2 separate regions of the Homo sapiens genome follow, and region 1 is linked to region 2. Evidence: fine-mapped expression QTL. Tissue or cell type: whole blood. Region 2 holds a variant in brackets; the other region holds the start of a gene. All regions are shown on one strand. Distances are from middle to middle.

Evidence for each region. PIP is the estimated chance that this variant, and not a neighbour inherited with it, causes the effect.
Region 1: UBASH3B starts here. The variant in region 2 is fine-mapped to the expression of UBASH3B in whole blood (INTERVAL, PIP above 0.99). The same link has a PIP of 0.9 or more in neutrophils.

What each region holds. Positions count from the first base shown.
Region 1 is chr11:122,653,203-122,658,202 of GRCh38, forward strand. It overlaps UBASH3B (ubiquitin associated and SH3 domain containing B), which reads left to right and starts at 2,520. Exons shown (of 14, transcript NM_032873.5): 1 at 2,520-3,008. The coding sequence starts at 2,848. RefSeq lists an enhancer at 2,425-2,926 and a silencer at 3,130-3,179.
Region 2 is chr11:122,694,629-122,703,378 of GRCh38, forward strand. The region is part of intron 1 of UBASH3B (ubiquitin associated and SH3 domain containing B); the gene reads left to right. Among named protein-coding and RNA genes, the nearest start is that of UBASH3B, 43 kb to the left of the region's middle. The variant G/A (reference allele first, on the strand shown) is at 3,910.

The DNA.
Region 1 (5,000 bases), 43 kb before region 2:
AGACATTTATGAAGCTTTTCCTAGCTTTTCAACGTCAACACAATTAAAGCACAATGCATCTGAATTGCCAGCCCCCCAACCCAGTGCAGAACAAATGGCAGGAGTCCTAAATAAAACAGGGGTTTGCACTGAGCTGAAGACAAGTGAGGAAGCCAAGCTGGGATTTCTGTAAAAGTGTCCCAGACAAAAACAGTTTGCATCTCAGGTGCCTAGTTTTTCATAGTGCTTTTTCCAGTCTACCTAAAACTATTTTTATATGCATCATTTCCTTTATCTTACAGTTTGCCTAAAGGCAGGGAGAAAGACAATTAATTCAATTTTTCTGGAGAAACAGAGATCCAGCAATTCTATGTCAAGGGGCATAGATGGAGTCAAAAAACTATCTTAAAGGCTGGTGTCCTTTTATCATCATAACAATGGTCGTTAACTAGTTGTTTGGCCAAATGTTAAGAGTTCAAATCTTGGCTCTGCCATTTACTAGCCATGTGACCTTGGACAAGATACTTGACCTCTGGCTCAGCACCTTCATTTGTAAAGTAGTTCCTAGTTCATAGTCTTGTCAAGGAATTGTTTGAGTCACATATGTAAGAAGCAAAGAACAACACCAGCATATAGTAAGTACTCAATAAATTTGAGTTATCATTTATGTAGCGCTTTATGGTTTACAAAGCGCTTTCACATACATTATTATCTCTTGACTAAGATCCAGATCATTTGACTTTCAGCCCAGGCATTTGGAAACAATTCAGAATACTGGATAAAATCCAGCATGTTTTACCGAACACATCCAAGGAGGCTAATACTAGGTATGGTGTTGCCAGCCCAGTCTTGTCTTTTTGCTCCATGTCCTGGAAGAGCATTCTGCAAGGTCTCCAGGATATCCCCTTTGCTCTGGAAGCAGCTACTACCCAGGAAGCATTAATTTTCCCTCATCCTTTGTACAGCAGGAGGCAGAATTAATACACATTGTTGCTTAAGCTCCAGCTGTCTTATCTCCCTGCTTCCAAACACCACTGGCTATTCTTTAGGAAACCAATTCCGGGCTCAGGGAGTTACACTGTATCATTTCCCCTGGTAAAACCTTCACAGGCCTTATAAAGCAACCTCAAAAAGCCACTCCATGGGTGCTGGTCACCATCCCTCCCCCATATTCCAACCAGGGACAGGCCCGGACTGACATTTCTGGAAAACCCAGTGTGTGCAAGGTTAGGTTACCACGGTCCATACCAATGAGGAAATTAGGCTGTAGAGAGAAGTAACTTGTCTAAGGCACCGCAGTGGATACGAGTGCTGTAGCTACGCACTTACCAGCTCTATGATCTTCCCCAACCTCTCTGAGCTGAGTTTTCTCATCTGTAAAACTGGGATAATGATTAAACACACTCCTAGGGTCAGTATAAAACTTCAGTGAGTTCATTCATTACGATTAGCACAATGACTGGCACATACAAGAGCCCAATAAATGTTAGGTTTTATTATTATTATTACCCAAAAAAGACTATCAGTTAGGGTGTACTCATTGCCTCTTTCATTATAGCAAGTGGGACCCTTGTCCCTGACTGAAGACAATGACTTTGTTTCCAAACGAAAGAGGGTTAGCATCCCCCAGCCAAATTCACCAGGTGGGGCATGGGGCATCAATATGGTTGTGGCTTCCACCATCTTTGCAGTGGGAGTAGTTTTGTCCAGCCTATGATACAATTCACTTATTATTGTGCAGTGGTGATTCGGTCCGTCTTTGAATCCTTTTATTGACAGGATATCCACTCCCTAATGAAATAAGCCCGTTCCCTTTTGAACACCTCTTATAATTAGGAAGTATGTTTTCTCTGTTCCTTCTTCCTCTACCCTCCTAGCCCTTCCTTCTTCTCCTCCTCCTTCCTCCTTTCTTTTTCCCTTCCCTCTTCTTTCTGCCCTGTCCCTCTTTTCTTGTCCCCTCCCAGGTCCTGCCACCTCTGAGAACCTGAGGTCCTTCTCCCCAACCCCTCTGCCCCACCGGGAAGGCACTATTCAGTCACTGACCATAACCTTGTAGAGCGCAGTAGGTCTTTAGTGCAGCCACTTGGCCGGCTGATTGGGAACTCAACTTCCGATGGTCCTAACAACCCTTTGGGTTTTGCAGGATCTTTGAGAAGCAAAACCTTTTACCTAGGCCTTACGGCTTGGCCTTCTGGTCCATTAGTATCATCCACCAGTTCACCCAATTTCCATTAATAACCGCATCTAGAATCACATGAAACTTGAGATGGGTTGATCTCCTGTCTTGAGGCCCAGCTGGGCGGGTATGCCAGCCAAGGAGAGGGCTGGGGCGCCGGGGGTGACTCTCGGGAGGTGAAGCACACAAGCAGCCCATAAGGTTGGGATCCTCCGTCTCCAAGTAGCGCGACTACAGCTCTTGCCCGCACGGAGCAGCCTCGGACAGCGCGGCCGCTTTAAGAGAGGGGCGGGGCCCGGGTACAGGCAAGTCAGGGCCAGCCCACAAGGCTCCTTTTCCTTTTTGATCCATTCAAAAATTACTCATTGCAAATTCCCGGACTGCTAGGCGAGGAGAGGGAAGGGGGCGGAGGAGACAGGGCTACTGCAGGCGCAGAGCTGGGGGCAGCCGGGGGCCCGAGTGGCTGAGGCTGGTCCCGCAGCGGCCGCTTGCCGGCGTTCTGGCTCCTGTGGCCTCACCAGGAAGCGTCAGAGTCCCGACACTGGGGAAGCTCGGAGCGCCGCCTCCGCTGCCGCCGCCTCCTGCCTGGCTCTGGGTCCCCGAGCCCCCTCCCCTGGCCCAGCCCGACTCCCTCCTCCTTCCCGAACCATCCGGCTCGGGCTCCTTCCCTGGCGATGGCTGGCCGCTGAGCCATGGCTCAGTACGGCCACCCCAGTCCGCTCGGCATGGCTGCGAGAGAGGAGCTGTACAGCAAAGTCACCCCCCGGAGGAACCGCCAACAGCGCCCCGGCACCATCAAGCATGGATCGGCGCTGGACGTGCTCCTCTCCATGGGGTTCCCCAGAGCCCGCGCGTAAGTGGCCGGGCTCGCAGCCCTCGGCGACCCCTCCCGCGCGCGCGGCCGGCCCTCGGCTTCGCTCCGGCTCGCCTCCCAGCGCCTGCGGGACAGGCAGCGCGCTCCCCGCTGCCCGAGACCTGTTGGGGGCGGGATGGGCGCGCTGGCAACCCGGGACTCGGCTCCGGGCGGGGGTGCGGGGGAAGACGCGGCGCGGGGGCGTTGGGCCAGGGCTCGCCGTGGGATGCCTAAAGCTGGGGGACGAGGGCGCGGGGTTCGAGTCCCGGGTATAGTGCTCAGCCTCCGCCCCAGCCGGGTGGAGCTCAGCGTTTCTCTCGCGCGCTCCCCTAGGTCTCCAGCGCCGAGCGCCTAGGGAGGCGGGGCCCTGCGGAGGACTCGGGCACCCTCTCCGTCTGGAATACTGGGCTGGTCTGGGATCCTCCGGTGTCTGGGAAAGGGCGGGAGACTGCGGGGCAGGGAGGCCGGCGCCCCCGTTGCAGCGGCTTCCAGCTCCGGATGTCGCTCTCGGGTTCGGTCTCCCCCTGGAGTAGGAGGAGCGGGAGCGTGGGTGTTCCTGCGTGTTCATTGATGGGGAGGATGGAATCAGAAGGAGAAGCGATCCCTCCAGGGGACCTGGGTTCTCGTCAGTGGTGACGGCAGCTCAGAAATCTGTGGGTGCCTGAGAGTAAGGAGGGGGAGCTGTTCTTCATCCTTCCTCTAGGAGAGTGGGGTAGGGGAGGGCAGGGAGAGCGCAGGTGGCTGCCCCTGGAGCCTGCTGGGGAGAGGCCTGTTTGCCAGCATAGGGTGGCGGCGGCCGGAGTCGTCTCAGGCCGGTCGGCTCAAGTCTCAGGGGCTGGAACTCTGCCTAAGAGGAAGCCAAGGCCCAGCGGCCAGGCCCTTCTCCCCTGGTTAATCCCTGCCGTGCAGATTTCTTAGGTGGGGACACAAGGCCTGGCGTCCGGACTGGGCGCAGCTTCTTTTCATCTTTGAATTACAGCACCTGAACAGGAGAGTTGGCCAAACTTAATCAGTGAGGGCCAAGTAAATGAAAGTCCTTTTTATTTTTTTCCCTTCTCACATTTTTTTTTCAGGTGATAACTTTATTTATGTATTTATTTTTCTGAGACGGAGTCTCGCTGTGTCGCCAGGCTAGAGTGCAGTGGCGCAATCTCTGTAACTTCCGCCTCCCAGGTTCAAGCGATTCTCCCACCTTAGCCTCCTGAGTAGCTGGGACCATAGACATGCGCCACCACACCGGGCTAATTTTTATATTTTTAGAAGAGATGGGGTTCTGCCATGTTGGCCAGGCTGGTCTCGAACTCCTGACCTCAGGTGATCCACCCACCTCGGTCTCCCAAAGTGCTGGGATTACAGGCAATAACTTTATGTCTCCCCTCCCTTATCTCTGGGCAAACCTTGTTTATTCTCTACTAACTTGGTTGTAATCTGTTAATCAAAGTAGACCCTTGAATTTGTTATTCTCCAGGCTGCTGGGACACGTTGGAGTGGCCTTAGAAGGCTGCAAAATGGACTGATGGTTTCTGCCTTCCACTGACGTCCCAATACGACTTCCTAATACTAGGGCTCCAGTTCCTGATACCAGAATTACAGGGAGAAAATGTGGGTTCTGCAGGGGTGTGTCAGGTGTGGACGCTTCAGGTGAAGTCGTCGGTGTGGATGATCAATGTGCACAGCTCTCCTTAAAAACTGGAGGTGGGGCTGGGTGTAACCCCAGCAGTTTGGGAGGCTGAGGCAGCCGGATCACTTGAGATCAGAAGTTTGAGACCAGCCTGGCCAACATGGTGAAACCCTGTCTTTACTAAAAATACAAAAATTAGCTGGGTGGGGTGGTGCATGCCTGTAATCCCAGCTACTTGGGAGGCTGAGATAAGAGAATCGCTTGAGCCCAGTAGGTGGAGGTTGTAGTGAGCCAAGATCGCACCACTGCACTCTAGCCTGGGTTACAGAGCGAGACTTCATCTCAAGAAAAAAAAAAAAAAAAAGCTGGAG
Region 2 (8,750 bases):
ATTGATATAGAAAAATTAATGGGTTGATGGTAGAAATGGCTGAAGTCTTGGAAATGCTGTTATTGATAATCGGAAGCCAGTGGAGGGAGTTTTAAGTTTTAAGGGTTTTAAGCACAGGGCAAGGAAGAGCTCCTAAAACAAGCCTTGTTTGGACTGTGGGTTCCTTGAGTGTCAAGATTTAGTGTGCCACAGTGGATTTGAAAACCCTAGCTGTTAGCATAGAACACTTAGCCTGTGCTTAATTTGAGGTATGCCAGGGTATGCCATCCACCAGTGATGTGCTTTATTTTTATTTTATTTTATTTATTTTTCTTTTCTTTTCTTTCTTTTTTTTTTTTTTTTTTTTTTTTTTTGAGGTGGAGTCTCCCTCTTTCCCCCAGGCTGGAGTGCAGTGGCACGATTTCAGCTCACCACCACCTCTGCCTCCCGGGTTCAAGCGATTCTCCTGTCTCAGCCTCCCTAGTAGCTGGGATTACAGGCACCTGCTACCATGCCCGGCTAATTTTTGCATTTTTCTTAGACACGGGGTTTCACCATGTTGGCCAGGCTGGTCTTGAACTCCCGACCTCAAGTGATCCACCCGTCTTGGCCTCCCAAAGTGCTGGGATTGCAGGCGTGAGCCACCGCGCCCGGCCCACTGGTCTGCTTTAAAATTCAAAACCTTGCATTTATTTCTTCTATCCACTCCTGTCATCACTCAGTTGCATGGATGCCTGGAAGGAGCTTGAAGCTCTGGCATGATCTGATCAGAGCCTGCGGATGGGTGGGAGTTTCCAGTACTCGTGCCAGCAGGCTGGTGAGCATATGCATCCGGCTCCTCCTCTGCAAACATGCTGAGTCCTCCCAACCTTGATAACGCTTCAACCCCTTCTGGGAATATCTCCTTGAGTGGTGAATGCTAATAAGTGTCTGATGCTGTCGCCATTTCAGCAGCTCTTAGGAGACTCTGTGGTTTTCTTTCCTTTTTTTTCTTTTCTTTTTTACTTTTTCCCCGTTATCCATCAGCATTTATGCACATCGTGTTTTATGCATTGTGATCCTCTTAGTGCCTTGGATATGTTGTTTGGACCTTCAGTTACACAGTGCCTCACTCCCTGGAGGTCTAATGATGCTCAGGAAAGACAGAGAAAAGAACTGCCTTGCAGCATTTTTGCATCAACACATTGATTCCTACATCCCAGCCATGCCCAAAGTGGTTAAAAAATGAAGTTTTCATTTAGAGCTACGGGTGGTAGTTTAGAACTGTTGGGAAGTTACTAAATAGTCACATTGAGCTTATGTTTCCACTCAGCCTGATAACCAAATAGTTTTTTTATTTTTTATTTTATTTTTATTTTTTGAGACAGAGTCTCATTCTGTTGCCCAGGCTGGAGTGTAGTGGTGCGATCGCTGCTCACTGTAGCTTCCGTCTCCCAGGTTTAAGCGAATCTCCTGCCTCAGCCACCTGAGTAGCTGGGATTATAGGTGCCCACCACCATGCCTGGATAATTTTTGTATTTTTAGTAGAGACGGGGTTTCACCATGTTGGCCAGACTGGTCTTGAACTCCTGACCTCAGGTGGTTTGCCCACCTTGGCCTCCCAAAGCGCTGGGATTACAGGCATGAGCTACTGCGCCCGGCCCCAAATAGTTTTTAATTTCTCGGTAATAAGCCGGCAGGATTTTAACCTTAATGAGGATTTCTTCAGGGCCCTACGTTTCTTTTTCTTTTTTCTTTTTGTTTTTGAGATGAAGACTCGTTCTGTCACCCAGGCTGGAGTGCAACCTCTGCCTCCCGGGTTCAAGCGATTCTCCTGCCTCAGCCTCCTGAGTAGCTTGGATTATAGGCACCTGCCACCATGCCCAGCTAATTTTTGCATTTTTAGTCGAGACAGGGTTTCACCATGTTGGCTAGGCTGGTCTCAAATGCCTGACCTCTGGTGATCCACCTGGTACTCCTAAAGTGCCAGGATTACAGGAGTGAGCCACTGCACCCAACCAATACTACATTTCTAAATCTGTATTTTCAAAGACTTTAGCTAAAGACTAGAATGTGTAAGTTGCACGTGTGTCCGAGCTATGCCCACCCTTTCCTGGGCCGTGTTTAGTACCGCAGCCACATCAGAGCAGAATTGCAGGTGGCTAATGGCCCCTGCCTTCCCATCTGTACAGAATACACGGAGAGCACCCCAGTTCTAGGGCAGGCCGGAGTCTGTTGACAGACATTTCTCCTTATCTTGTTTTCACATCAGCTGCAGCACGATTTCTGTTCAGAGCAAGCGTGGGTGGGGGTTCCTCCCGCCCTGCCCTGTGCTAGCTGTTAAAATAGGAGGGTGGTTTACCGTATTGTTTTTCAAGTAAAGATCAGGCCACCAGGAGTTGGTGACTCCAGTGGGTCACTGGCGGTGTTTGTTCATAGCAAAGAAAAGTCAGCCCAGCTCTTTTGGGGATACATCAGTAATCTACATAGCAGCCATTTGATTTTGAAGATTAGGGTTTGGGGGGGAAGTTTGAAGTTTTGTTTGACTGCTAAGAGGAATTAGATAGCTCTCAAAACATTTTTCAAACTCAAGTAATTGGACTCTCCAAACAACGGGAATGGTGGCATAACAGACCACTAACATTTCAATTGCGCTTTCCAATCGACAAAGTACTTTTACATATGTGATTATTCCCTTTATTACAGAAGAGAAAACTGAAGCTCAGAAATCCCAGCTATTCAGGGGGCTGAGGCATGATAATCGCTTGAACTGGGAGGTGGAGGTTGCAGTGAGCCGAGATCGCAACATTGCACTCCAGCATGGGCTACAAGAGCAAAACTACGTCTCAAATAAATAAATAAATAAAATCCCAGTATATGGTCTGCACACACTACACATTTATACCCACAACTTCAGATTAAAGTGAACATTAATGACCGTACTGAAGCAAATAGAGTTCCAGAGATTTCTAGTGACTGAGGGCGCTAGAATTCGAACCCAGATCCACTGCCTCCCACTTCTGGATCCTTTTTCCTCCACCATCCTCCCTCACACTTGTTTCCATCTTCTTGTCCAATGTGAATTGTTTATTTGCTGCTTCAGCATACAGCACCTCAGTACCTTGATAGTCAGGACTTAGGTTGGGCAGGATAGCCACATTAAATAAGCAAGGATTGAGTCATTGCGTTGCACCATAGATACATGGGTTTACAGCAACTTAGAATAAAGAAAAGAGGAAGCAGCTGCTGTGCTGGGAGCTTCATAGACCTGACACTGTCCAAGGGGGAGTATATTTATATACCTCCTCATTTAATTCTCAAACAGCCTCCGGAAACACATTCTCTCATTTTCATCTGACAGTTAAGAGCACTGGGGCGTGGCGATGTAAGGAAACTTGCCGAAAGTTGCATAACGAGTCAGTGATGGAGCCTGCATTTGAACCTAGATTTGTCTCATTCCAAAGCCAGCCCTGTCCAACCCGCACATTCTCTCAGTGAGGAAACCAGGGTGGTGGAATGACTGCTCTGGCAAATTAAGGGCAGAGCTGGGCTCAGCCACGTAGTCTCAGTGTTCTTGCCAGTATACCTGGCAGATCTCTTCTCTTAGAGTTGGAATTCTCCTCTGTCGTATTAGATGAAAAGTTGTCAACATTGCAGATGACCTCCTCTCCCCCTACCCATACCCCCATAGTCACGCCAAATTTTTGTTGCAATTCACACCAGGCATGGATTTCTATCTTCTGTTGCTCCCCACCTTCCAAAATCTTCCATGCCCCTCATCTAGGCTCTGGCAAAAGTTGTTCCCAAGTAACACTATGTGACCATTTGAATTTTACATTTTCTCCCCACCTTGCAACAAGGCAGGAGAGAATGGCTTTGGAACTATAGAAAATTAGGATGGTATAAGGCTAAAGAAGAGCAAGAAGATGGATGCATTATGTAATGAAAACT[G/A]CACTCACAGTATGGGAGAGCCTGGGGCATATGTTTGGTAAGGCAGGTGCCAGCTGTGAGGATACTAGAAACCAGGTGTGGGAGCATCCTGGGTGCCGTGTGTGGAGGCTCACTGAGTTGCTACAATGGTCAGAACCTAAAGCTAGTTCCCTAACTCCCAATGATCCCACAGCCCCCACATTCCATCCACCCGACACCCAGCACTCCCCATGCCTCTGGAAATCTATTTGCTTCAGTACGGTCATTAATGTTCACTTTAATCTGAAGTTGTGGTTATAAATGTGTAGTGTGTGCAGACCATATACTGGGATTTTATTTATTTATTTATTTGAGATGGAGTTTTGCTCTTGTAGCCCATGCTGGAGTGCAATGTTGCGATCTCGGCTCGCTGCAACATCCACCTCCCAGTTCAAGCGATTATCGTGCCTCAGCCCCCTGAATAGCTGGGGCTGCAGGTGCCCAGCACCACACCCAGCTAATTTTCGTATTTTTAGTAGAGACGGGGTTTCTCCATGTTGGCCAGGCTGGTCTCGAACTCCTGACCTCAGGTGATCCACCTGCCTTGGCCTCCCGAAGTGCTGGGATTCCAGGCGTGAGCCACTGCGCCCGGATTGGGATTATTTTTAAATCTTTTCGCCCCTGATGGAGGAGGGGCATGGGAGGGAACTGGTATCTATTAGGTGCCTGCTGTACCTAGGTTATTTTATTTAATCCTCATGGCAACACTCAGTGTCTTACAGATGGAAAAATGTGATCTTCATCTTAGAGAACTCACAACTCAGAGGAGTGTGGCACGTGGAGTCACCGAATTGAGTTTGAATCTTAGGAAGCTGCTATGTGTTCTTGGCATTTCCTGCAACCTCTATGCTATCTCTTCTTCTGTGAAATGCCTGTGGATAATATTATCCACCTTCCAAAATTATTGTGAGAAACACATCAGATGACTGATTTTTCTTTTTAAATCTTTCTTTCTTTCTTTCTCTTTCTTTCTTTCTCTTTCTTTCTTTCTTTCTTTCTTTCTTTCTTTCTTTCTTTCTTTTCTTTCTTTCCTTTCTTTTTTTTTTGAAACAAGGTCTCCCTCTGCCACCAGGCTGTAGTGCAGTGGTGCAATCTCTGGTTACTGCAACCTCCGCCTCCAGGGCTCAAGCGATCCTCCCACCTCAGCCTCCTGAGTAGCTAGGACTAGAGGCAAATGCCATGACAGCCAGATAATTTTTGTATTTTTTTGTAGAGACATGGTTTCGCCATGTTGCTCTGGCTGGTCTTGAACTCCTGAGCTCAAGTAATCTACCTGCCTCGGCCTCCCAAAGTGCTGGGATTACAGGCATGAGTCACCATGCCCAGCCCAGATGACTGATATTTCAATGTCTTGTAATCTATTAAGGTTTACGTAAATATTATTGTTTAGCTTTGGAAATCGATCAAGGAATTGACAATGGTACCCAGAGCCCAGCAGTGGAACTAGAGGTCGTGTTGTTGGTGGTGCTTTATTCACTTGGCCGTATTCAGTGGGTAGGTTTGCAGCATGAGGTATCATGTGTGGGTACTAGCGGAGACCCGACATGCTGCACATCTGAGAGGCCAAGAGAAACTGAGGTAACCATCATTCCCCCGGGAGCAGCACCGCTGTTGGAGTGAGGAAGAGGTCAGTCTCTTATGATTAGGTAGAGATCCAATTCCTCAACACTTTGAACTAGCACAAAGTCCCCAGTGCTGAATGAGATGGGCTGACATCATAAGCTTTGTCTCCTCCTTTGTTTAGGCTCTGACCAGAGTTACACATGGTGAGTCCATTTTTAAAATTCATTTCCCAAGTTTGGGATTTTGTTAAGCTTTATGGTTTAGTGGATACAGTTAACAATTCTTTTCCAAACACCATTACATCTTAAGTTTTTTTCACATTTTTCAATGTAAATGTTCATATGTTCATCTTACTCACTCTCATAGTTTACTTCTGATCTTTTTTTTTTTTTTTTTGAGATGGAGTCTCGCTCTGTCACCTAGTCTGAAGTGCAGTGGCATGATATCGGCTCACTGCAACCTCCACCTCCCGGGTTCAAACAATTCTCCTGCCTCAGCCTCCCCAGTAGCTGGGATTACAGGTGCTCACCACCACACCCAGCTAAATTTTGTATTTTTAGTAGAGATGGGGTTTCACCATGTTGGTCAAGCTGGTCTTGAACTCCTGGCCTCAGGTGATCCACCCTCCTCGGCCTCCCAAAGCGCTGGGAATATAGGCATGAGCCAAAGCACCTGGCCTACTTCTGATCTTGATGTTAACAGTAGGGGATGCAATTTGTAGAGGAAGTGTGTTTCTGACAGGTGAGAGAACACTTCATGTAGGGTGAACAGTAAACTGTCCCAGACAGGGATGTGCTATGTAGATGAGCACTGGGAAGCCTGTGTTTTCTCAGAGCTCCTGAAGACACCCTGCTCCACATTAAACCAGAATCATCACGTCTCATCACAAAAAGAACATTAGTGTTATGGGGTATATTTTCTGTTTCATATTAAAAATTCCCAACCCCCAGCATTCTGACCCTGTCAAGCCCACGGGCTGCTACTAATTTGCATGGTTGTGTGATTTGTGTGATTCTGCTCCATCTGCTTTGAATTTCTTGGCTTCTTTGTCCAAGACGTTAATAACTCTAGTCATTTCTTGTGAGGATTTAAGGATGTTATTGATTGATTTTGGATTACAAAGAAACAAAAAGACAGTAGGCAATGTTCTAATTGGGTCTTCTTATTGTGCACTGTAGCCTGAATCCCCCAGGGTAATTAATATGAAGTGCAAAAAGTTGAATGTTCCAGTCTAAAAGGCAGTGGGAGAAATTACATAGCATGGAAATAATAAAATGAACTCTTATTAATGAGAACGAGGCTCTTGCAGTGGCAAGTTCTGCTGGTCACCCGATGGGGATGGGAGCCTTTCAAGCTTTTTTTTGGGTAATACTCACAGTTTCCAACGTCTGTGTACTTTTCAAAATGAGCTTGTTCTTCCTTCTGACACTCATCTCAAAGCTCCATGGTGACGCAGAGGTCTGTTGAAGGTCACAGGGTCCTCGCTTGCATTGGCATACGGTCCTGTAGCATCACTTGTTAGCCCACTGCTGCTTGAAGGAACTAAGAGTATTCAGGGATAGAGAGCTGAAAATAGGATTAATTCTTTCCTTTTGACTCTCCCCTCAAGATGTCCTTGCTTTGGTCTGAAAACCTCTCCTGACAACTTTTGCCCAAAGCAAACCATCTGCCTTTTCTGAACTCTGAGTGAATATATTAGCATCTTCCCTTCTGAGCCCTCGTACTGCCATGTTTGTTTGTTTGTTTGTTTCCAAGAAACTGTGTCTTGCTCTGTCACCCAGGCTGGCATGTAGTGGCATGATCATGCTCACCGCAGCCTCAAACTCCTGGGCTCACGTGATCCTCCTGCCTCGGCCTCCCAAAATGCTGGGATTACAAGTGTGAACCACCACGCCCAGCTGTAATGCCACATTTCAATCTTCCCTCCCAGTGAAGACGACCGTTTCTTTGAGGACAGATGCTGTGTTCTTTACTTCTCTATGTCTCCCTTAGTCCTAACATGTGGCTTCCAAGTAATGCAGCGTATGCTCAACCAAGAGGGATGGTCAGCAAACAGCCCATGAGGAAAAGTAGCATTTGTTCCTAGGAAAACCGAATTATTTGCTTTAGTAATGAATCCAAGTCCAACATAGTTACGTGCAAGGAAACATTTCATCCAGAATACTAATGACATCAGCATGGAGAGAGAAGAGTCTAAAATAAAGATCTTTTTAAAGTACTTAAAGGAGGCCAGAGAATATCATCACATAAAGTATAATATAGGACCCTACCCCTACCAAGCACGGAGATCCCTTGCCTTCATCGTTCAAGGTCAGATTGGAGATTTCAGAGAACCCTAGGTTGCAAGAAACGTGTTTGGAGTTTTGGGGAACAGATAAAACAGTAAGCAGTAGGAAAAAAAATCACCAGGTTTTTTTTTTTTTCAGATGGAATTTTGCTCTTGTCGCCGAGGCTGGAGTGCAATGGTGCGATCTCAGCTTACTGCAACCTTTGCCTCCCGAGTTCAAGCGATTCTCCTGCTTCAGCCTCTCGAGTAGCTGAGATTACAGGCGCATGCTACCACACCCGGCAAATTTTTGTATTTTTAGTAGAGACAGGGTTTCACCATGTCAGCCAGGCTGGTCTCTAACTCCTGACGTCAGGTGATCCACCCGCCTCGGCCTCCCAAAGTGCTGGGGATTACAGGCGTGAGCCACCGTGCCTGGCCAGATTTTTAACTCAGGAAAAATTTATATTCTCCTCACTCATCTTTGAATTATACTAACATCATTAAATGAAGGAGTGGAATTGCTATAAAACTTACTACTAATCCTGATTCTGCATTCACTCATCATTTGTTTTCTCATTTATTCACTCATTCTATAAACAAATTGGACACTCCCTCAAGATCAGTGCTGTATCTGATTCCTTTTGAAATGTCCTCTTTCCTCTTTCCCCCAAGCCTCGCCCACAGCAGGTACTTAGTAGATGTTTACTGAACAGGGTTGGTGGTGGACATGCCACTTCTTTGAAATATTTTTTTCTTTGGCCGGGCACGGTGGCTCATGCCTGTAAATCCCAGCACTTTGGGAGGCTGAGGTGGGCGGATCACGAGGTCGGGAGATTGAGAGCATCCTGGCTAACACAGTGAAACCCCGTCTCTACTAAAAATACAAAAAATTAGCCAGGCGTGGTGGTGGGTGCCTGTAGTCCCAGCTACTCGGGAGGCTGAGGCAGGAGAATCGCTTGAACCCAGGAGGCGGAGGTTGCAGTGGGCCGAG